4 linked regions of the Homo sapiens genome follow. The protein of the gene in region 4 purifies or fractionates together with the protein of the main gene of each other region. This does not show direct contact. Each region holds a gene or a part of one and is shown on either strand. Other genes may lie near its edges.

What was found.
Region 1: the proteins of PTGFRN (region 4) and TSPAN14 purify together in Homo sapiens (co-immunoprecipitation; one large-scale study listed by IntAct). This does not show direct contact.
Region 2: the proteins of PTGFRN (region 4) and TSPAN5 purify together in Homo sapiens (co-immunoprecipitation; one large-scale study listed by IntAct). This does not show direct contact.
Region 3: the proteins of PTGFRN (region 4) and CD82 purify together in Homo sapiens (affinity purification with western blotting, with the first as the bait; one study listed by BioGRID). This does not show direct contact.

What each region holds. Positions count from the first base shown.
Region 1 is NC_000010.11:80,456,499-80,461,448, reverse strand, and holds part of TSPAN14 (tetraspanin-14), read right to left. Parts: intron 2,165-4,950; exon of another isoform or gene 1,865-2,164; intron 1-1,864. UniProt on the Homo sapiens protein: Part of TspanC8 subgroup, composed of 6 members that interact with the transmembrane metalloprotease ADAM10.
Region 2 is NC_000004.12:98,469,397-98,474,591, forward strand, and holds the end of TSPAN5 (tetraspanin-5), read right to left. Parts: intron 3,192-5,195; coding exon 3,126-3,191; 3' UTR 971-3,125; downstream 1-970. UniProt on the Homo sapiens protein: Part of TspanC8 subgroup, composed of 6 members that interact with the transmembrane metalloprotease ADAM10.
Region 3 is NC_000011.10:44,563,757-44,569,495, reverse strand, and holds the start of CD82 (CD82 antigen), read right to left. Parts: upstream 3,834-5,739; 5' UTR 3,760-3,833; exon of another isoform or gene 3,166-3,759; intron 1-3,165. UniProt on the Homo sapiens protein: Structural component of specialized membrane microdomains known as tetraspanin-enriched microdomains (TERMs), which act as platforms for receptor clustering and signaling.
Region 4 is NC_000001.11:116,957,822-116,962,771, reverse strand, and holds part of PTGFRN (prostaglandin F2 receptor negative regulator precursor), read right to left. Parts: intron 1,530-4,950; coding exon 1,104-1,529; intron 1-1,103. UniProt on the Homo sapiens protein: Inhibits the binding of prostaglandin F2-alpha (PGF2-alpha) to its specific FP receptor, by decreasing the receptor number rather than the affinity constant. Functional coupling with the prostaglandin F2-alpha receptor seems to occur.

The sequences.
Region 1 (4,950 bases), on a different chromosome or scaffold from region 4:
CAAGAAGCTACTAGAGTTACAAAACACAATGACTGTGGTAGGCAGGATGGCTGCAGAGAGCAGGGTTCTGGCACCACCACTGTTCCACTGCAAGGGTGGAAGCTGGCTACAGAGCCTTTAGGAAGGAGGGAAGGCCCCATCCACAGCCGACAGGTTTTCCTTACAACAGCAAGGGCCTGGTTCCTGAAAAGCTGACTGTTGAGACAAGATCAGCCTCAAGAAAAGGAGGCAGGCCAAACAGGGTCACCTGTGCAGGGTAGGCTGGAGGGAGCCGGCCCTCAAGAGAGGCAGAGTCTGATCAAGTAGACAGGAGGGCCAGAGAGAAAAGGAGGAGCCTCACTCATGGAGGAGGAACAAGGTAGGCTGGAGGCAGGGACTTGTAGGCCTCAGACAGAAGGAAGCTGGTGAAGCTCCCATAGGCAAAATGCCCAGGAGCTCCGGCTAGAAGGCAGCAGGAGTGTGCAGTCCAGGCAAGAGGAAGAGATCCCCCACAGCACCTCCCTCTGCCCAGCTCAGACAAATGGGACAGTCAATCCCCAGGCTGATGGAGGCGGGAGCGAGAACCACAAAGTTGTCAGACTGGTTTGCCCAGGACAGGGAGAGCAGGGAACACAAATTGCAGCAGGAGCTCAGCTTCAGGGGGCAGAAAAAAGCAGCAAAATTGGTGGGCTGTAGGGAAACAAGGACCCAGGTCCATGCGATTTCCTGGGTGCAGAGGGGAAATCCAGCAGGCCAAGAGCAAGGGAGCCAAGGGACAAGGGGCCAGCAGATGCTGAAAAGGACCAAGGTTTCTGGAAAAAAAGAGAGTGACACTTACAAGAAGGGACACCTACAAGGAGAGAAACCTGTCCCCTACTCTTACACTGGCCCAAGCTCAGGACCACTCACACCTGTCTCCTGAGGGACAGGCCAGTGCAAGAAGAATGGACAGGACACTGCCAACCACGGGATACTGACAGAGATTCTGTCCCTCACCAAACTTTATTCCTCTGAGCCCTCTACTCATCTGGTCCTGACCTAGGGTTCCTAACTCCATTCTCTCTAAGAGCCTAGTTTTAGCAAAACTCCTGTTAACCAGAATCCCCCAACCTCAATATCTAATCACCCTGGATATCTGAACGTATTTCTCATCCTGTACTATCTCCCAGGTAAAACCTGATCACCCTGGCCTGCCTGCAGCAAGAATTCAGTTAGCTAAGTTTAGTAAAAATTTCCCTACCCTCTTAGAAATTTTCAGGAGCCCCCACACTCCGCTCCTTGGCTATAAGTTCCCACTTTTCTTTGTTGTATTTGGAGTTGGCCCACTCTCTCCCCTCTACTGCAAAATCCATTGCGATAATTCCTACATCTATCGTAATAGTCCTGATACAGTCTACCTTACCAGTTTAACAAGTGTCAGAATTAAGTTTTTCTTTCACCAGCTCCCTAAGTCTTCCTGGACCCACTGCTCCCACCCCTCACTCAGGGTGTGTAAATTACTTGGTCTGGGGCTGTGGCTGACCTCCCCTAACAAGCCCCAGAAAAAGACCCTGTCTGCCTGGCCCAGGGACACAGGAGAGGACCCTCAGCACAGCTGGTGGGCACCCAGACTGGGGACAGACACACTCCTACTGCTGAGAGTCCCATAGCATCCCCAGGATCACCACTCAGACCTCGGGGTACAAACAAGAGATTCGGGAGAGGCCCATTTCCTTCCACTGCTGTGGGGCCTCTCTCCTGGATGTTAGGGCTCCGAACTCCTCTCAAGGCCGTGCAGTGTACAGGAGCACAGGCCCAACAGCTGGGACTGTCAACGCATAGTCAGGCAGGAAAAACCCAGAGAAGGTTCACTAGCCCCTTGTTCCAGTCCCTCCCCAAACCTTACCCATGCAGGACAGCCCAACTCCAGCTCTCCCAAATGCCAGGAAACACAAAGACTCTGAGGCAGCACCAGGAGCTCACCTCTTACCAGAATCCCAGAAGCCACTTTAGAGACAACTGCCCCAGCTCTCAGGCTCCCAGCTCAGGCCAGCACAGCCTAAGGAGGGAGGAGCCAGTTCCTCCAGCTATCTAGCTGAAAGGCACAGGCTCTAGGCCTTCTCCCTGGCTGCTCAGTTGGGAGGCAGTACAGACCGCAAGGGGTGAAGAGTTTCAACCCCAGCCTGCCCAGGCCCACTTAAGCTCTGGTCTCCAGGCCTGGCCTGCTGCCTCCTAAAAGAAAACCACAGCCCCACCCAACCCTACCCAACCCCACCAAGCCCAAGGGCGGAGGAAGTGAGGTTCCCAGAATCAGCTGCTGGTGAACACTTGCTGAGTGCCGCCAGAGATGGCAGCTGTCTCACACCAGTGTCAGGCCTAACTCAGGGGCTTTGGATCTTGCTTCTCAGGGTACTAATGCTTCACTGCAACCCCGTGAGACAGAAAAGGCAGACTTGATTCTTCTCACTTTACAGATGAGAAAAGTAGACAACTTTTTTTTTCCAGGAAGAAAAAAAAAAAAAATCAAAGACTTGTGTAGGTCACTCAACTAGAAAGTAGGTGCAACTTGAAAGCTTGCCTCACCACCGTCCACTCTGCAAGCTGGACAGTGTTATTCATCTTCACATCTTCACGTTTAATTGAGAGCGGCACTGGACACTGCCCCCCTGCCAGGGCCTGCGCTCCACCAAAATGGCTACTTGCCCTGTCTAAATCAAAAGCATACGCAATTAAGGGAGAAAATGGATGTGGAGATATTATGAATAACCTCCCTGATTCACAGTTACAGAGGACACTACTATAATGGAAGATAAGCAAACTGAAACGCTGGCATTCACCTAGACCAAAGACTCTCAAAACTTCATTCTACGCAGCTCCCTGGGTACTCTGATAGCCTGCCAAGAGTGAGACCACTGCTGGAGACCACCACCACCTCTCAATCCACTGGCAGAAAAACGGAGGCCCTGGAAAAGGTGGAAATATGCCTAAGCAGAGTGAGTTAACCATGAAGCAGAAGAACCTGAGGCCTCACCACCTCCAACAGTGTCTGCTGGCCCCGAGGGAAATCACCAGAGACCAAGCAGGTGACCAGGCACAAAATCAAGAGCCACAGTGTGGCTGACTCTTCAAAATCCTACTAACGTGGCCTGAGGGGGAAAATTTAACTAACAGGGTTCCTACTCCCTTCTACAGACCAGGGATCTAGCCCCACACTCAATCCCATCCCCAGTGGGAGTCCACCTTCAGTCACCTCGCTACCACTGCTTTCTACACCCCTATGCCTGCAAGCTCAATCCCCGAGTCCCACAAAAGTGGGGAGGACCAGGCCTGCCTGGGTATCGCTACCTGCTCCTGCTTCTAGGAAAGGTGGCTGCCCCTACAGGCCACATCCAGGTAGCGGATGGAACATGCAAGATATCCAAGGACTGACACGGCAGGGCAGAGACAGGCAGCAGGAACCTAATCCCCTTCCCATAGGCATCTTAAAGGCCACCAGGACTCAGTGGCAGGACACAGGGATCATCATGTTCTCTGTCCCTCTGTCCAAGCCACCAGGGGTGTTCCCACTAATCACTATGGGTCCCCCCAGTGAGGACAACATAAAGCAGATAAGTGATGAACATGCAGTGTGAACAAGAAATAAACCTCTGTTGCTTTAAGCCTCTGAGACCTGGGGATTGCTGTTACCACAGCAAACCGTGATCTGTCCAGACAGACACAAGCAGTGACTCCCCAATCTTCTGCATGTGGTAGTGCTGGTCTTCCCATTCCCTGGCCTTAGGGAGACAGAAGCTCCATCACCAATCAGCGGGGGTTCCGGGGTACCTGCTATGTGCCCAGGCTGTGCTGGACAGATGAGATGTGTTCAGAGGCAGGGATACAAGGGCACCTTCACTGAAAACATTCATTAGTTCCACTGTGGGCCAGGCTTGTTTGGTATATGAATCCATTTTAATCACCTCTGAGAGGAACATATTGTCTAAATTAGAAATGAGAAAACCTGGTCCGGCACAGTGGCTCACGCCTGTAATCCCAGCACTTTGGGAGGCCGAGGCGGGCGGATCACTTGAGGTCAGGAGTTCAAGACCAGCCTGGCCAACATGGTGAAACCCCATCTCTACTAAAAATACAAAAATTAGCTGGGTGTGGTGGTGCACACCTGTAGTCCAAGCTACTTGGGAGGCTGAGGCAGGAGAAGAATCACTTGAACCCAGGAGGCGGAGGTTGCAGTGAGCCGAGATCACGCCACTGCACTCCAGCCTGGGCAATAGAGTGAGACTCAGTATCAAAAAAAAAGAAATGAGAAAACCCAGCTCATATTGAGACTTCAAGCAAGTTACTCTGTGACCTCTCGGGACCACAGTTTCCTCATCTGTAAAATGGAGCTGTTGACATCACGGTTGTTTTGCTTTTTGTTTTTTGTTTTTTGAGATGGAGTTTCATTCTTGTTGCCCAGGCTGGAGTGCAACGGCGCGATCTCAGCTCACTGCAACCTCCACCTCCCAGATTGAAGCAATTCTCCTGCCTCAGCCTCCCAAGTAGCTGGGATTATAGGCATGTGCCACCACGCCCAGCTAATTTTGTATTTTTCGTAGAGACAGGGTTTCACCGTGTTGGTCAGGCTGGTCTTGAACTCCTGACCTCAGGTGATCCACCCACCTCGGCCTCCCAAAGTGCTGGGATTACAGGCATGAGCCATCACGCCCAGCCATCACAGCTGTTTTCAAGGATTAAATGAGTTATTACAAGTCAAACTTCTAGGGTGTAAGTCTCAATAAACTCACATTAGTATCACTATGAAATAATCTTGTCCTTCACTAAATTTTAAGCCAGCAAAGGTTTCCCAGGCCTGGCACAATGCCACTTTGCAGGCACTGCTAAAAGGAATTCTACCTCAGTTGAAGTTAAATGGGTCAAATTCCTGAGCACATGGTGGCATAGAGTGAGGCCTCAGGAAATAGTTCCAGAACCCAGGGCTTTCCTGCTCCCCGG
Region 2 (5,195 bases), on a different chromosome or scaffold from region 4:
TGAGCTGTCATTTTTTTTTCCTTTGTTGGCTTATAGTTTGCAACAAGCAAAGAGGGCCAATGTAGACAATAAGAAAACTCAAGAAGCAGGGATTGGCCATCTCCAATCATCACTGATAAATTTCCTTAAAATCAAAATAACGTTGTTTCAAATATCTGAGATATGAGGCAAAACGTTTCTTGAACAAGTCTGACACTATGTTGTCAGGATCTAAGTGTGCTATATGAACCTTAAAATTTGTTTTCATTTGATCTTTGAAAAAAGTATTTAATCAGTTCTAACGACGGAAGTCTTCTTCTGCAGTGATAATTCACAATGAAAGACATTTAAGCTGACGTTTCTCTAATGGGTTTTTAAGATTCCAGCTCCAAGGGACTGTGAGAAATTATTTTCTTATATAAAAGGTTGTGAATATTATCAACATTTATCTAAGCCCATAAGTCATAAATCCCACCAGGCATTAAATTTTCAAGGGAGCTTTTAAAACATAGATTACCCTGTCTCCCACTCCAGAACTGCTAGGGGTAAGGTCTGGGGAATCTGTATTTCACATGGTCCCCAAGTGATTGTAACCAGCAGATGACCTCATGGGCAGGGATTTCCTACATACGAGGCTCTGGCCTCTGTGTCTTGTCAGTCAGCATTTTTAAGTACAAAGGAACCTTTCCCTTCCCAACTACAAAATCTTACCTTTCTGTTTCCCCTCCTAGAAAACTGGATCAGAACAATGCTTCTCAAAGTGTAGTCCCCAAACAAGCCGCAAACAGCATCACCTACGATCTTATCAGAATACAAATTCTCCAGCCCCACCCCAGACCTACTAAGTTAGAAATTATGGGCACGGAGCAAATGCATTCATGTGTTTTAACAAGTCCTCCCAGTGATTCTGACACCTGCTAAAGTTTGAGAACCACTGGATTCGAAAATTTCACAATTTCAAGAAAGAAGTAATGAAGAAAGACACACCATGTAAGGTAGAACCAAGTTTATTAATGACAGCCTTTATTACAATCACTCTCAAGTGTAAAAAATAAAGGGTGATTAATTAATATTTAAAACTCACTCGGACTTGCTGTTTGGCCTTTCAGTGGATGTGCCAAAGGGCAGGGATCTTGCCTGATTCTGAATCAATTGGCCAGATGGAGTTCACTGGAGAATGAGGCAATCAACAAAAAAGACAAATGATGCCAACTGGAGAGAGCTCGTGTCTTCTCCATGTTGGAAGGACATTACAAAATGGCAACTGTGGTGGGGGCAGAGATGAAGTAAGACAACCTTACAGTCGGAGTAAGATGTGAATACCTCTACCTATACAGAGACAAAAACACACACATGCAGAGCCATACACACACCCAAACAGTGAACACAGTTTTGAAAATAATTTCCTTTTTGTCCTTTCTCTGAGCAGACTGACACATTCATCGGCCACCACCATGCACCATGGGGCTGAAATGGAAAACCTCGCTTAATTTCCACAAAGTATTCTAGCTGGCTGCCCAGTTATGTGCTGGCAAATCTGTCCGCACCGAAAAATGTGCCTGTGGTTTTCCCAGAGTTCCACAGACTGATATCTGCTCCCCAGGAGGGCAACATCCGGTGGACACCAGCTGGATTAAAATCTAGAGGGCAAAACTCGTCCCTCCCACCTAAAGTGGGGGCAGGAGCGGCAGCACCAGGAAGTGGTTTCCCACTTTGTGTTACAGAGTACTTGCCCCAGTTCAACGCATTCCCCTCCAAAGTATTTGTGCTTTGATACCATCCTGATGGTTAGTCTGCAATAAGAGAACTGAAGGAGCTATGGCCATGCACTATTTTCTTTTTTTAATAAAAGCAAACTAAAACTGGAGGAAGAAAAAGAAACCATTAGAAGCTTTTGACTGGGTCAATGTTGTTTCCAAATTGGGTTTAATTCCATTCAAAGAGAAAGAAGGGGAGGGTGCAGAAAAGGCCACTCAGATCGACTCTGGAAGAGATCATCAAGACCAGGGAAGCATTTGGATGGTACAGCTGGTCTCTTCCCAGCCAGACTGGGAGGACATGCCACAACCTCCCAAGGCTGTGAACCTAGGAAATAAGTGCTGACCAAATAACATATTTCAATGTTTGTAGAAAAGCTGGCAGGAAAGGGAGATGATGGATTCAGATTCACAGGTCATGCAGATTAAGACTTAATCAAAAATTAATGCTTGAGCTGAGTAAGAAAACACTAAAATTTAAGTGGAACTGTATCATAGCTTTCACCTTTGGAAGACGAAAAACAACAAACATACAAAACAAAATGACCCAGAATATTCCAGAGTTTCCAAAAATCCAACTGCTAATTTTGGCAGGGTGAGAAGAAGGGGATATTTAACTGATACCTCTTCATTAACCTCATTTTCTCCTTGAATTTCACTGATAAACAAAGCTCAGGTCTACTTAGAAAAACGATCAGTCCTGCTAAAATACAGCCTCATGACGTCTTCCAATGCCCTTGCTCGGTGCACATGAAATACACAACTTCTCTTATAAGGAGACTTTCCAGGATAGACCAAGTGTGCTCGCCCAAGTGACTTGCTGAATACCATCACAAAATCTGAACCCAAAGATGAGTTGTTTTCTTCTTCAGATGAGAGTTGCAAGTGTTTCCTAAAATGTACATGGAGGGATGCCCACAAACCACTGCCCTCCCAGGTGAGGGGCTGAGTCTTTGAGGAGATGCACTCCTTCAGGCCATGGAACAGAAAGAAGGTGGTCCGTCCAAGGTGTGGTGAAGAGCAAAGCTGCCTCTCCCAGCCCTCCAATTACGGAAGATGAGGACAAGAATGTATTTTCTGCACATTCAAGTACATCTGGGTCCCCTACCCTCCCTTTTTTTCTTTTTTGGTAAGCATCTAACTGTCCATAAATTCATGGCTACAGTAGAGATTCACGGCGCAACGACTTTCATACTGGTTATTTTTTTTTTTAATTCTGTCAGTGAGCAGCATTTCCCAGTTTTACACTCCCCTAATGGCAGCTCCATTAGGCGAGACTGCAGGCTGCATCTGTGATTAGGTCCATGCAGCTCGAAGATCAGTTCGGCACGCGGGAGGGTCCCGAAAGCTGGGTCTGTCCAGTGTCTTGCAGCAGCGGTTGCAGGGGGTCTACCAGCTCGCCCTGACAGCTTCGATATCGCTAACCAAATTCTGGGCCAGGCATATCCCAAATATCTGAGAAAGGAAGAAAATGTGAGTGAAACAGTGACACTTGTAACTTGTTTCCCTGGCCACTGTGTCCCATTTTTTTAAATCATTGATTTTTGAAATTTAAGATGTAATTCATATGTGGTAAAAAGCATCCTTGAAATGTGTATAATTCAGGGGCTTTTAGTATATTCACAAAGCTATGCAACTATCACCACTATCTAATCACAGAACATTTCATTACCCCAAAAAGAAACCCTGTACCTGTGAGCAGTCATTCCCATCCCACCATCCCTACAGACCTAGCAACCACTAATCTACTTCCTGCCTCTGTGGATTTGCCTCTTCTGGACATTTCATATCAAGGGAATCATATAATATGGGGCTTTTGTGGCTGTCTTTTTCATGTAGCAAAATATTTTCAAGGTTCATATACATGTGCTATTAATTTATTCCTTTTGATGGTTGAATGATATTCCATGGCATGGATATGCCCCATTTTGTTTATCTACTCCTCAGTTGATGTGTATTTGCATTGCTCTCACATTTTGGCAATTATGAATAATTCTGCTATGAACATGAGCATACAAGTTTTTGGGTAAACACTTTCTCAATTCTTTTGGGTACTCCTCTAGGAGTAGAATTGCTGACTCATATGGTAGCACTATATTTAACTTTTGAGAAACTGCTAAATTGTTTCCCAAAGAGGTTGCAACATTTTCATTTCCATTAGCAACATATGAGGGTTTCGTTTTCTCCACATCCTTGCCGATACTTGTTATTGTCTGTCTTTTTTATTCTAACCGCTTTAACGAGTATGAAATATGTGGCTTTGAATTGCATTTCCTTAATGACTACTGACGTTGGCATCTTTTCATGTGCTTATTAGCCATTTTTTTTTTTTTTTTTTGAGACGGAGTCTCGCTCTGTCGCCCAGGCCGGACTGCGGACTGCAGTGGCGCAATCTCGGCTCACTGCAAGCTCCGCTTCCCGGGTTCACGCCATTCTCCTGCCTCAGCCTCCCGAGTAGCTGGGACTACAGGCGCCCGCCACCGCGCCCGGCTAATTTTTTGTATTTTTAGTAGAGACGGGGTTTCACCTTGTTAGCCAGGATGGTCTCGATCTCCTGACCTCATGATCCACCCGCCTCGGCCTTTATTAGCAATTTTAATCTTTAGAGAAATGTCTGTTCAGATCCTCTGCCCGTATTTTTGTTTGTTTGTTTGTTTTTTAATAATTTAAGGGACTGGGTTTTGCTCTGTTGCCCAGGCTGGAGTACAGTGGCGTGATCATAGCTCAGTGCAGGCTCCTGCCTCTGCTTCCCAAGCAGCTGGGATTACAGGGACAAGTCACCATGCCTGGCTGCCCATTTTTAAGTTGTTTGTCTTTTTATTGTTGACTTTTTAAAGTTCTTTATTTTTCTAGATACTAGGAGTTATCTTTTCACTGTCTTGATGGTATCATTTTCAGCACAGTTTTAAATTTTGAAGTCCAATTTATTTACATTTGTTTCATTGCTTATGCTTTTGATGTCATATCTAAGAAGACACTGCTTAATCCAAAGTCACAAATATTTATGCCTATGTTTTCTTCTGGAGTTCTATAGCATTAGCTCTTATATTTAGGTCTTTGCTTTATTTTGAGTTAATTTTTACATATGGTGTGAGTTAGTCTAAATTCATTATTTTGCATATCTAGTTTTCCCAGTACCATTTGTTGAAATGACTGCTCTTTCCCTATTGAATGGTTTTGGTTCCCTTGTCAAAAATCAACTGACCATATACGTACGAGCTTATTTCATCTTCTTTTTTGAGATAGGATCTTGCTCTGTCACCCAGGCTGGAGTGCAATGGCATGATCTCAGCTCACTGCAACCTCCCAGGCTCAAGTGATCCTCCCTCCTCAGCCCCCCAAGTAGCTGGGACCACAGGCATGCGCCATCATGCCCAGCTAACTTTTGTATATTTTGTAGAGACAGGGTTTTGTCATGTTGCCCAGGCTGTTTTGAAACTCCTGAGCTCAAGTGATCCA
Region 3 (5,739 bases), on a different chromosome or scaffold from region 4:
GAAGGAACTTATCTAAGGTCACACAACATACACACAGCAGAGCAGCAGCCAACTCCAAGGACCAGAACACAGGTCTCTTTCCTCCATCAGCTGCCTGTCCATGTCAGCACAGTGAATCAGCTGCTGACAGGAAAACCACAGTGGAAGGGGAAGCCCGGGGGTGAGTCAGGAACCAGCCAGCCTCCGAGAGACACCAGCTGGGCCTGTTGCAGAGGCCCCGGGTCTGTGGTTGTCTGCCTCTTCTTAGGGCAGCATCAGGGGCGAGGGGAGCAACACATCCCACACCACTCACTCCATGTTTACCTCTGGGCTTCCCCTCCCAGCTCCTCAGACCCCGGCTTAGTGGAGGGGAAGCGGGTGGGTAGGGCAGTTCCTGCTGAGATTAAACGGGTCCTGTCCCACAGAGGGGCCCAGGCCAAACAGTCCAGGCTCTTCCCTCCCTTCCCACCTCTCACAGAGCCAGCTCCTGGCCGTTTGATGTTCTTGATTAAGTCATAACCGCCCCCTGTGAGCTTCCCATGGGGCAGAGGAAGTGGGTATAACGGTTTGGAGCAGAAGGCCAAGGCCAAGGTCAAGCCAGAATCAGGGGTGCCAGCTGGCCCCAGATGCTCCGAATCTGAAACAACACTCAGAACTTGGGGCTGCTCAGCCATGGGTTGAGGGAGGACTGTCTGGTCCTTAGGGGAACAGGTTTGGGTCCCCAGGGTGGAAGGGGATGGCCGGTGGGAGCTTCCAGGCTGTGGCTCTAAAGCGTGAGGCCTCAAGACAGAGGGGGCCGCCCCCACATAGCGGAAACTTCAGAGGAGCCCAGGGAAGCCAAAATCCTGCCCCAGTCCCCCTACTGTGGGAAACTTGTGCCCTGACTGCTCACCCACTGCCAGAGATAGCACATGGCTGACCTCTCACCCCTATCCTCCCTGGGCTGGGATGGGAGGGAGGGATCAGCAGGCACTTCTTCTAACCATCCCGCCCCCGACCCCCAAACTTACTGCTGGCTGGCACAGGCTCCCACCTTTCGGCCCAGATGCCTCCCCTTCATGGGCAAACCCCTCTGTAGCATTCATCACCCTCCCAGCAACCCCGCCACTCACCCAATCCAGCCACCTTCCTGAGACCCTGCTATGTACCAGACAGGATAGGGAGGAGAAAGAAGTGCAAATGTGCTGGAACAGTCCCCTCCCACCCCTCCAATGGTGCCTTTGCTCTCCCTGTGGCTGGTGTCTCTTCCTTCACTCCCAGTTGCAGACATCCCCAAAGCCACCCAGACCCCTTCTTCCCAGTCACTGCAGCCATTGGTTCATTATCCCTTGACCGCTGGATCCTCCACCCCAGCACATCTGGTACAGACTGACTTTCCTAAAGTGCTGCTCTGTTGTGTCACTCCTCTCCTCAGAAACCTTCAGTGGCTCCCACTTTCTGCAAATCAGATCCAAAGTTCTTATCCTGTCATTCAAGGCCCTCCGTAAGCTGATCCCACCTACTATTCCCACTGCATATCCCCACACGTTCCCAAACTTCAGCCAGAATGAGCAACCTAGAGGTTTCTCGAGAATTCTCAGGACAGGTTGACCTCCCTGCCTCTGCCTAGGCATTTTCCTCTCCTCAAGACACTATCTTCATTCTGGCTGCCGAAATCTTCCCAGTCTGTAAGGCCCTGAAGATCCCTCTAATCCTTTTTTCATTTATCTTCCATCAGAGTCCCTGGTATTCTTGTGTAAGCCCCTTCCCGGATGGTAAGCAACCTGAGGGTGCAGGCCTTATGTGGTCGCTTGTCATTCATCGAGCAGGAAGTGGGGGTGGTGGTGGGGAGGGCTTTCCATTAAGGCTCACTAGGTAGGCTCTGTTGAAATGAACGTCTCCTCCTCCCCACCTCAGGCACCACCTACCAGACCCTCTCCCTCCCCACCATACCAAACTCCAATTTATGCCACTTCAGTGCTTGAAGAGACTGTGGTCCCATGTTGATCCAAGCCAAACCAGGACCAGGAGCCCAGAGAGAAAGTCCTATTCAAGTCTCACCCCCTCCAGGAAGCCTCCTTACCCCCACCCCCTGCCCTGGCTTCTCAAGTGTCTCACTCTTCTGAACACCTCCCCCTGCCCTACATACACACACAGTCTCCTGCACACAGCGCAGCCGCCAGTCCGTCTCTGTCCCACAGCACTTTCCAGTTTGTTCCATACTGTACAGCTTATCTCCCAGAAGATGCAGGGAGCCAATATAATGCAGCACCTTCAGCGTCCTTCAGTGTCCAACCCTGCTTAGATATCGGGTGCCCACATTGCCCCTCGCCCCCATCCCAAGCCAAGTGTGCAATGGTATAGCTGGATTCCAGCCACCAGGGCAGAACAGACCCATGAAATCTCATCTGGTTATAAGCCCTGGGTGTGACTGATCCTCTCTACAGGGACATGGTAGGGATGGGGGAGCCCTCATTGTCAGCAACTCAGGCCTGGCTAGTTCACCTCTGTATCCTCTAGCTCTCTCTAGCATATAGTAGGTGCTCAGTAAACATTTTTAGACTTATTTAACTCAACACTTACCAACCTCAAGCAACATTACAGAAAACTCAGCCACTCTTTGTTCCAGATGACACAGTCCTCATCCCTCAAATAGAGTGATGTTGGTGGCAGGTGGCAATTTCTGGCTTTCACAAGGTCAGGAGGGGCTGTAGCCAACCCCATCTCTCCAAGAAAAAAAAAAGGCTCATTCCCCATAGGAAGCAAGCCCATCACCTGCCCACCCGCATCAAAGCAGCTGTCACAGAGGGAGGTCTCACTGGTTTCCTGGCACCTTGCTAAGTAGTGTATACACATTATTCTATTTAGTGCTTGCTCCTGCTATTGGATATTGTCATTATCCCCATTTTACAGGTGAGGAAACTGAAGTTTGGAGGGGGAATGGAATCCAAATCAGTTTGATCCCAAAGCCCAAGCCTTGACCACAGAACTATGCTGCCCCGCTACTGGGGCCCAGCACAGAGCACCCACCACCTCCAGGAACAGAACCCGTCAGCCAAGAAATTAACCCCGGGTATGCTTCAAGGGCCCCTGGGGCCCTGGGCTTGACCCTGGGCCCAAGGATTGGTGGGGTTTTCCCTTCTCTTCCCCACTCACCAGTGTAAGAACTGTTCCCCAGTTTCCAACCTCCTGCTCAGGCCAGCTCACCTGGAAAAGCCCCACTGAGTTTCCAACTTGAAGTCTTAGGGGGTCCGGCTCAGTTGAACTGTTAGAATTGGTGGGAAGCAGGTGAGGCGGGAAATGGAACCTCCCTGCTTTGGCCTCCTCTTCCCCAGGGTTGGTGGGTTCGAGCCCCAACCGAGGAAACAGTGCACTCTTTAAAGCAATTCGCTTCTCTCAGTCCCATTTTGCAGGGAGAGAAACTGCAGAGGGCAACGCGATGGGAACACCTGTGGCGACCTGCAGCCTGCTCTCACCTGCCAGCTCTCACCTTCCGGCGTTTTAAGTGAGAAAGGGCAACGGGAGCGTGGAATTCACCTGGTTCACTTCCTCCTGCTGGAACCCGGGAGGTCCAGAGCCAGGTAGAGGGACGGACCCAGGATCACGCAGCTGTGCACGGCCGAGTGTGAGAACTGGGGGTTCAGGACTGGTGGCTAAAGCTCCTTTTCACCCACCAGCTGCCCCGACCTGTCACTAGTTCCGAGGAAAGTTGTCCGAGCCGGACCGCAGAAGCGGGGGCTAAAACTAACTTTGCCTATGGTTGTCCGGCAGGCTACCCCGGCCCGCTGCCCCCTTGCTCACCTGCGGGTTCTGCTTTCTGCTCCGCGCTGCAGGCCCAGCGTCACCCGCTCGTGCCTCAGTCGGCGTCGGACTGCACAGCCCGGGGCTCAGTCACTCCTCGGCCCCCTCCCGGCTGCAGCCGGGGAACGCCGCGGACTCGGCAGGCCCCGCCCCCAGAAGACACGCCCCCTCCGCCGGCCCCGCCCCCGAGCCCTTTGGGAAGGCGGTGCGCTCCCGCCGGCCAGGCCCCGCCCACTATGGCCGTACCCCAACCAGCCTCGCCCCCGGGCCCAGCTGGAGCTGAGGCCCCGCCCCGCTACGGAGTCTCTCCTCTATCCCGGCAGCCCCGCCCCCAGGTTACACTGGGGATTAAGCCCGCCCCGCTCCAGCCCTGTCCACTCACGGCGCTGCCTAACGGTCCCGCCCAGCTCCCGCCTACCTCGTCCTCCCGGTCTCCTCCCGGGCCCTCCCAGCGCCCCCGCCTCCTTCACTTTCTCCTTCGAGCCCACCCCATCCCCCGGCCCTAGTAGGGTGAGGCCACGCCCCTCCCCGCACCAGCCTGGGCTCAGCGCCTTCCTAATCCTGCCCTGCCCTGCCCCTCTCATCTCGGGCGGGTAGCCCTGGGGCCCCCACGCTGGCATTCCAGGGCGGGTGTATCCGGGTGCCGCCGGGGAACGGCGTGGGAGCGGTTTGTGTCCTAAGTCGGGGCCTCTATCAGGAGGCGGCCTGGGCCCAGGAACTTTTTGAAAATACTGACTACCATTGATTGAATCCTTGCCAGGGGCCAGGCTCTATGCCAAGCGCTGAATACAGTTCTAGCCCTTGAATTCCCACAACTCATGGGTACTCTCGTTGCGCCTATTTTACTAATGCGCAGTTTAAGGCTCAGAGAAGGGAAGTCGAGGGCTCTGAATCTCATGGAGGCGGGCGTGAGCGGGATCCAGCCTCAGGTCCTGAGTCACAGGCTTGAGCTGCCCCAGCTTGCCTGGACTGGCCCCTGGGGAAGTAGCCCAGAACAACCAGTGCTGGGGCAGTGCCCAGCAGCTGCCTGAGGTGAGGGAGGAGGTGTGGGTTGATGAGAATAGTGGCAGGAGGGGCTGTGGGCCTAAGCCCTCAAAGCTGGCTTTCTCCCTGAAGAAAAAGTGGCCCAAAATTGAGGTGGGCTGCAAGAGCTCTCTAGGTGGCTGCGGTGCCCACCCTGCGTCCCAGCCCTCTGCCCTCCCAGGCTCCAGAGGACTAGCCTCAGGCAGATTACCTGGTTAATGACCAGGGGCATTCACCTGTGCAGCTGACAAAGCTCTTTCACTTCCATTATCACAATGTCCTCTCACAACACACCGTTGTGGGAGGGTATGATTATGAGCGCTTTGTACGAGTGGAGTAAGGGCGGGAGCTGGATCCCAGCCCAGCACTGTAGTTCTCACAGCGTGGTCCTTGAACCAGGAGCAACATCATCTGGGAACTTGTTAGGAGTGCGTATTTTGAAGCCCCATCCCAACTTACTGAATGGAAAACTGTGGGACAATTGGTTTTAATAAGGCCTCCAGGTGATTCTGAATCACATTCAAGCATGAACCACTGTTGAGCAAACTGTAAAGAAGTCAGGGTGGTCTGAGAATCACACAGACCTAGGTAGCTTCCTGGTTGCGTTTTAAACCCAGGACAAGGCAAGATACTTAACCTCTGGGATGAGCCCTTAAACAGGGAATAATAATAAAATGAGCCATAACAATCATACCGATCTTGATGGTAGCTGTTGAAGATTACATGTGACAGCATTCATAAAGTATTTGGCCCACCGCTTGAATGCCGTACATGCTCAGAAAATGTTCTCTTTTCAGCAAAAAGTCTCCTTCATAGCATTCCCACACCAAGTCAGAAAAGTGAGGCTGGAGAATCCTTTAAACCCAGCAGTGTGTCATACCCGCAGAGAGACACCCTCTATCCTGCAAGTGGTTAAGATCCTAACAAGCTCCTAGATGATGTGGATGCTGGTCCGGG
Region 4 (4,950 bases):
GCTGGAGTACTAGACGGAGCGGTACAGAAAGACAGGAGATATGTTTAGAGAACAGGATGCTTGAAATTGAGACTGTGGAGGGGTTTCAGTTATCAGAAGGGAGACGGTCTAATGTAGCATATAAGCATGTAAGTGTAGGACCAAATAGGATAGAGGACATGATGACTACAGAGAGGAGGACAAGCAACTAAGAATGACAGGATTAACTGTATTAGAGTTCGCCACCTTGGCTGCACATGAAAATCACTGTGGGAGCATTTAAAAATTCCAGTGCCCAGAATGCATATACTTCAGACCAACTAAAATAGAATTTCTGGTGGAACCCGCCTGATCTCGTCTGATCTTGGAAGCTAAGCAGGGTCAGGCCTGGTTAGTATCTGGATGGGAGAATTTCTGGTGGGACAAAGCACCAGCATTTTTTTTAAGTTCCTAGGGGGCTTCCAATTGTGACCCAGTGCTCTACACAGATACTGAAGTTAGCAAGATGGGAGCAGTGTCAGACAGAGTGGCCGTGAAACAAACGCTAACATCTTCAAAGAATGAACGGAGGACCTAGGAGGCAACAGGCAATAGTAACAAGAAGAGGTGGTATGGTGTGATGATGACACGAGATTCGAAGCTAGATATTTTTAGGAGTGAGCGAAAACGACCTGGAAGCTGCAGGGAGGATCAAGAAGGGCACCTGCCCCACACCTCTAGGCCCAGTTATGAGAAGTGTGGGAAGAAAATGGGCATCACTTAGTTGGGCTCTGGGGGAAACTGTCCTCAGAGAGGTAACGGTTTCTCCAGGGGAAAGAGTGTCCTCAGAGTCACCATGTTTAATGCAAGAAAGAGAAAAGAAACATTCAGAGGTAAAGTTCAGGAAACAAGAGACTTGGCTGATTGACAGTGAGTTGGAGAGGGACCTCTCTGGGGCTTGGGGACAGAGGAGGGGTGATAGTGAGTCCAAAGAGCATGTGCAACGGGTCGCATGGCGATCAATGTCCAGGACACACATTCCTAGTGTAAGTGATAACCTGCAGAGGGTGACTGTGCATCAACACACAGCGGCACGACTTAAGCAAAGACAAAACAAAAATGAATAACAAGAAAAAAGTTCCTACCTTCTAATGCCCAAAATATGTTAACAGGCTTGGAGAAGACATCCTTGCTTTTCACCCAGCTGTTGTTCCGCTGTTTGGTCCAGGCAGACACAACACAGTAATAATTGCCTCTGTCTTCCTCTGTAGTCCTTTGGATCCGGAAATTGAACGTGTCTGTATGTTCCTTAGAAAAAATAAAGTCTCCATCCTGGGCCCGCTGCTTGCTCCTCTCTCCATATTTTAGCGTCCAGTCCCCGTCCATGACTGCAAGCAGCTCGCTGGTCACCACATTGTCGCTGCGCCGGTTCATCCTGTAGTACCACGAAACCGTGAATCGGACATTCGCCTCCCCACTCTTCGTGTCCACCACCCGGCATGCCAGCTCTGTGGGGTCATCCGCAAACCCGGGGACCTTGGAAGCATTCAGGTACACCTGGTAGTCTGGTTCTGAACGAGAGACAGAAAGGCCAGGATAGGAAAATAATTAGAGTAACATGGCAAGAATTAACAAAAGGAATGAGACAAGGACTGCTCTTGTTTTAACAATTAAATGCTTCTCCTGCCGGACTAGAGAGACAGAAATCAGTCGTTGCATTGGATAGGATCCTAGAACAGTGTTTTTGCAAAACTTGTAAAACACCGCTTCTCATACCTCCCACCCCAAGAAAACCTCCCAAGAACAGAAGCCCAATGTCCTCGGCCAGAATCTTGATCCTTCCATGGCACTGGGGTCTGCTGTCAGTTTCCCCAAGAGGTTAAGGTCTTCTGAGAAGAATCTCTTAAGAAGCTCAGTGTCCACCCCCTACCAAGATTGCTCTGGAATGCCAAGTAAGCCCACAGACCTCCAACACCCCCACTGGAACAGTATCGGAAAACCCCACCCAACAGTAAATTCCAGAACTCGAGGCCCATCAGTGGCACAGTGGCTCAGCTTCCTGTCATCCTTGGCCATGCCCTAAATGCAAGGCCCTCAGGTCATCATTCCCCCTACATATTTATGTCCTCACTTTACCGTTCCTCTGACTTTTTCTGCGGAATCTGTGTTCAGTGGTCAATAAGCACTCCCATCCTCAAACTCTCCCACAGACATTCTCGCTACTGCCACATGTAACTCACCTGTGTCACTGTGAATCTTGCCCTAGTGAGCACCCCATGTCCCTGCAGAGAAGGGTGGGAGGGAAGCCAGCATTCTCCTAGCATCCCCTTGCCTCTGCCACGGTCCTGTTTCCACTGGGAGAAAAACCCCTCCTTCCTCTGGGGTTCACTGCATCAATTTAATCCATTTCTGCACCTCCATGGTTCTGTCCTCCTTTGCCCCAAGGCTTCCTCCATACCTGCCAAGGAGCTGATGTTGGAATCCTCTTGTGGCTTCCTCTCCTTTCCCCCAGCTCCTCTACACCTGATTACTCGAGGTTCTCCAGTCTCCACACAGTCTCACGCCACTGTGATGATGTGAGATGCACTACAAACTTCCACTTATTCTTCAATGTCACCTGGTCCTGGGTCCCCAGAAGGGATATACTCTGTGCTCCCATAAGCCATCTATGCACTTTTGTATGCCAGTTAGCCCACTCCACAATGACTCTTTGCTTATAGTCTCATCCTCAAGCTCCAAATACACTGCCTTTTATGCAGTAGGCACTCAGTAAATGTTTACTGCCTGAATGTTCAGGCTTTTAGAAAAGGCTACATTTTTCTTCTTCTTCTTCTTTTGTTTTTTTTTTGGACAGTCTTACTGTCCCCAAGTGGAGTGCAGTGGCGCGATCTCAGTTCACTGCAACTGCCTCCCAGGTTCCAGCGTTTCTCATGCTTCAGCCAACCAAATAGCTGGGAATTCAGGAACATACCACCACACCCAGCTCATTTTTGCATTTTTTTAGTAGAGACAGGGTTTTGCCATGTTGGACAGGCTGGTCTCAAACTCCTGACCTCAAGTGATCTGCCCACCTCAGCCTCCCAAAGTGCTGGGATTACAGGAACGAGCCACCGCACCCGGCCTATAAAGGGCTACGTTTTTCTTCCATAGCACTTTGCCTTCTGGGAGAAAAATAATACTACCTAAACAGAACTCTCCATTTATCAACATTATCTTTATCTGCATCACCTTGATCAAAGTTTGGTTTTATTTAACATTGTTTTCATTTATGACATACAGATTACAAACTGCTGAGGTCAAGGAACTTTTCTTGTGATTTACACTTCTAATGGAATTTATAACATCATGATTTCTCCAAGAATGATTCAGTGGACCAGAAAATGCAAAGAACTCAAAATCCTAATTCCTCAAATGTCATCTTCACAAGTATTTAATTGCTTGTGCCCATCCATGGGAGTACATCGTACTGTGATGTGGACACCATAGAGAAATCCACAGGCTGTGGGACTGCCAGGGCTAGAGAGGAATCCACTGGCCATTCTGACTGCTCATTTTACAGGCTCATATGCTGTCACACTGCTAGGGGATGTCCTGAACCTGAGCATGGTGCTAATACACCACACCACACATCACCCTAGCAAAAACTGACTGAAGGACACACACCACCCAACTGTGTTTACACCATCATATGCAAAAGATAAGGAATGCTCAAATTACTCCACATCTAAACTTTCATGTCGAATTCAGGATGCAGCAATGTGGGTGCAGAGCAGGACAACTAAGTCCATCTCATGTGGAAAGGGCAGATTTGCACCAGCTGTGCATAGGGTAAGACTGCCCCAGAACACTGAGCATCAACTATCTGTAGGCAGCAGCCAGCAGTGGCTCTTACATGGAGCCTCAAGTCCATTTCAAGCACAACACATAAGACCCTTCCTGTGTGGCATGAGACTGTGTGGGGACTGGAGAACCATAACCCTGAACAGCAAACTGTGAGGCAGCAGAGAACAGTGGTGAGGAGCTGAGGTCTGGAGCCAGACTGTGTTCAAATCCTGGTTCTGCCACTTACTTGCTATTGACCTTGGGTAGATTACTCAGATCTCTGGTGCCTCACCCATACAAATGGGGATGACAGTAACTAGCTCATAATGTTATTGTGAGGGTTAAGAGTTAAAATATACTGTACTTAAAATGCCTAGACTGGTGCCTGGTGTGTGTGTGTATGCAGGTACACACATATTCATATACACATACACGTGTATATATTTGTGATCATTATTCACAGTTCCCATTTCTGAGGGGAGAGCTTTAAAGAAGTTAGTGACTTGGCCACACAGTTCAAAAGTGGCAGATGGGAACGGAGCCCTGTCTTCTACCACCTTTCAAGTGCATCCTTAGCTCACAGATGAACCAAACCTACTGTCTTCTAAACTTCATATTTTCTAAGTTCCACTGACTGACACATGATTTTTAGGAACGCTGAGTGCAGTGCTGCCATGACACTAAGTTACTGCCACAGGGAATGTGACCCAGAAGACAGCTCCCTGCAGGCCCTCGCCTCAGCCTGACTGACCAGTGTGATCCAAAACACCATGAAGTTGCCTGTGGGGACTCCTCTTCTGTCTCCTCACAGGTGACAGACCCTTTGATCCTTAATGGTTTACTTCCACCCCCGTGCAGATTCTTTCAGAGTGGCACCTTTTCAAAGGCTGTCAAAATTATGATGAAAGATGGTAGATGTTCATTGCAGCATTATTCACAAGGGCCAAGATATGGAATCAACCCGTGTCCATCAACAGATGAATGGATTAAAAAAATATGGTATATATACACAATAGACTACTATTCAGCCATAAAAAAAAAAGAACAAAATCCTGCCATTTGCGACAACACAGATGAACCTGGAGGACAGTGTTAAGTGAAATAAGCCAGGCACAGAAAGACAAATACCACATAATGTCACTCGCATGTGGGAGGTCAAAAAGCTGAGCT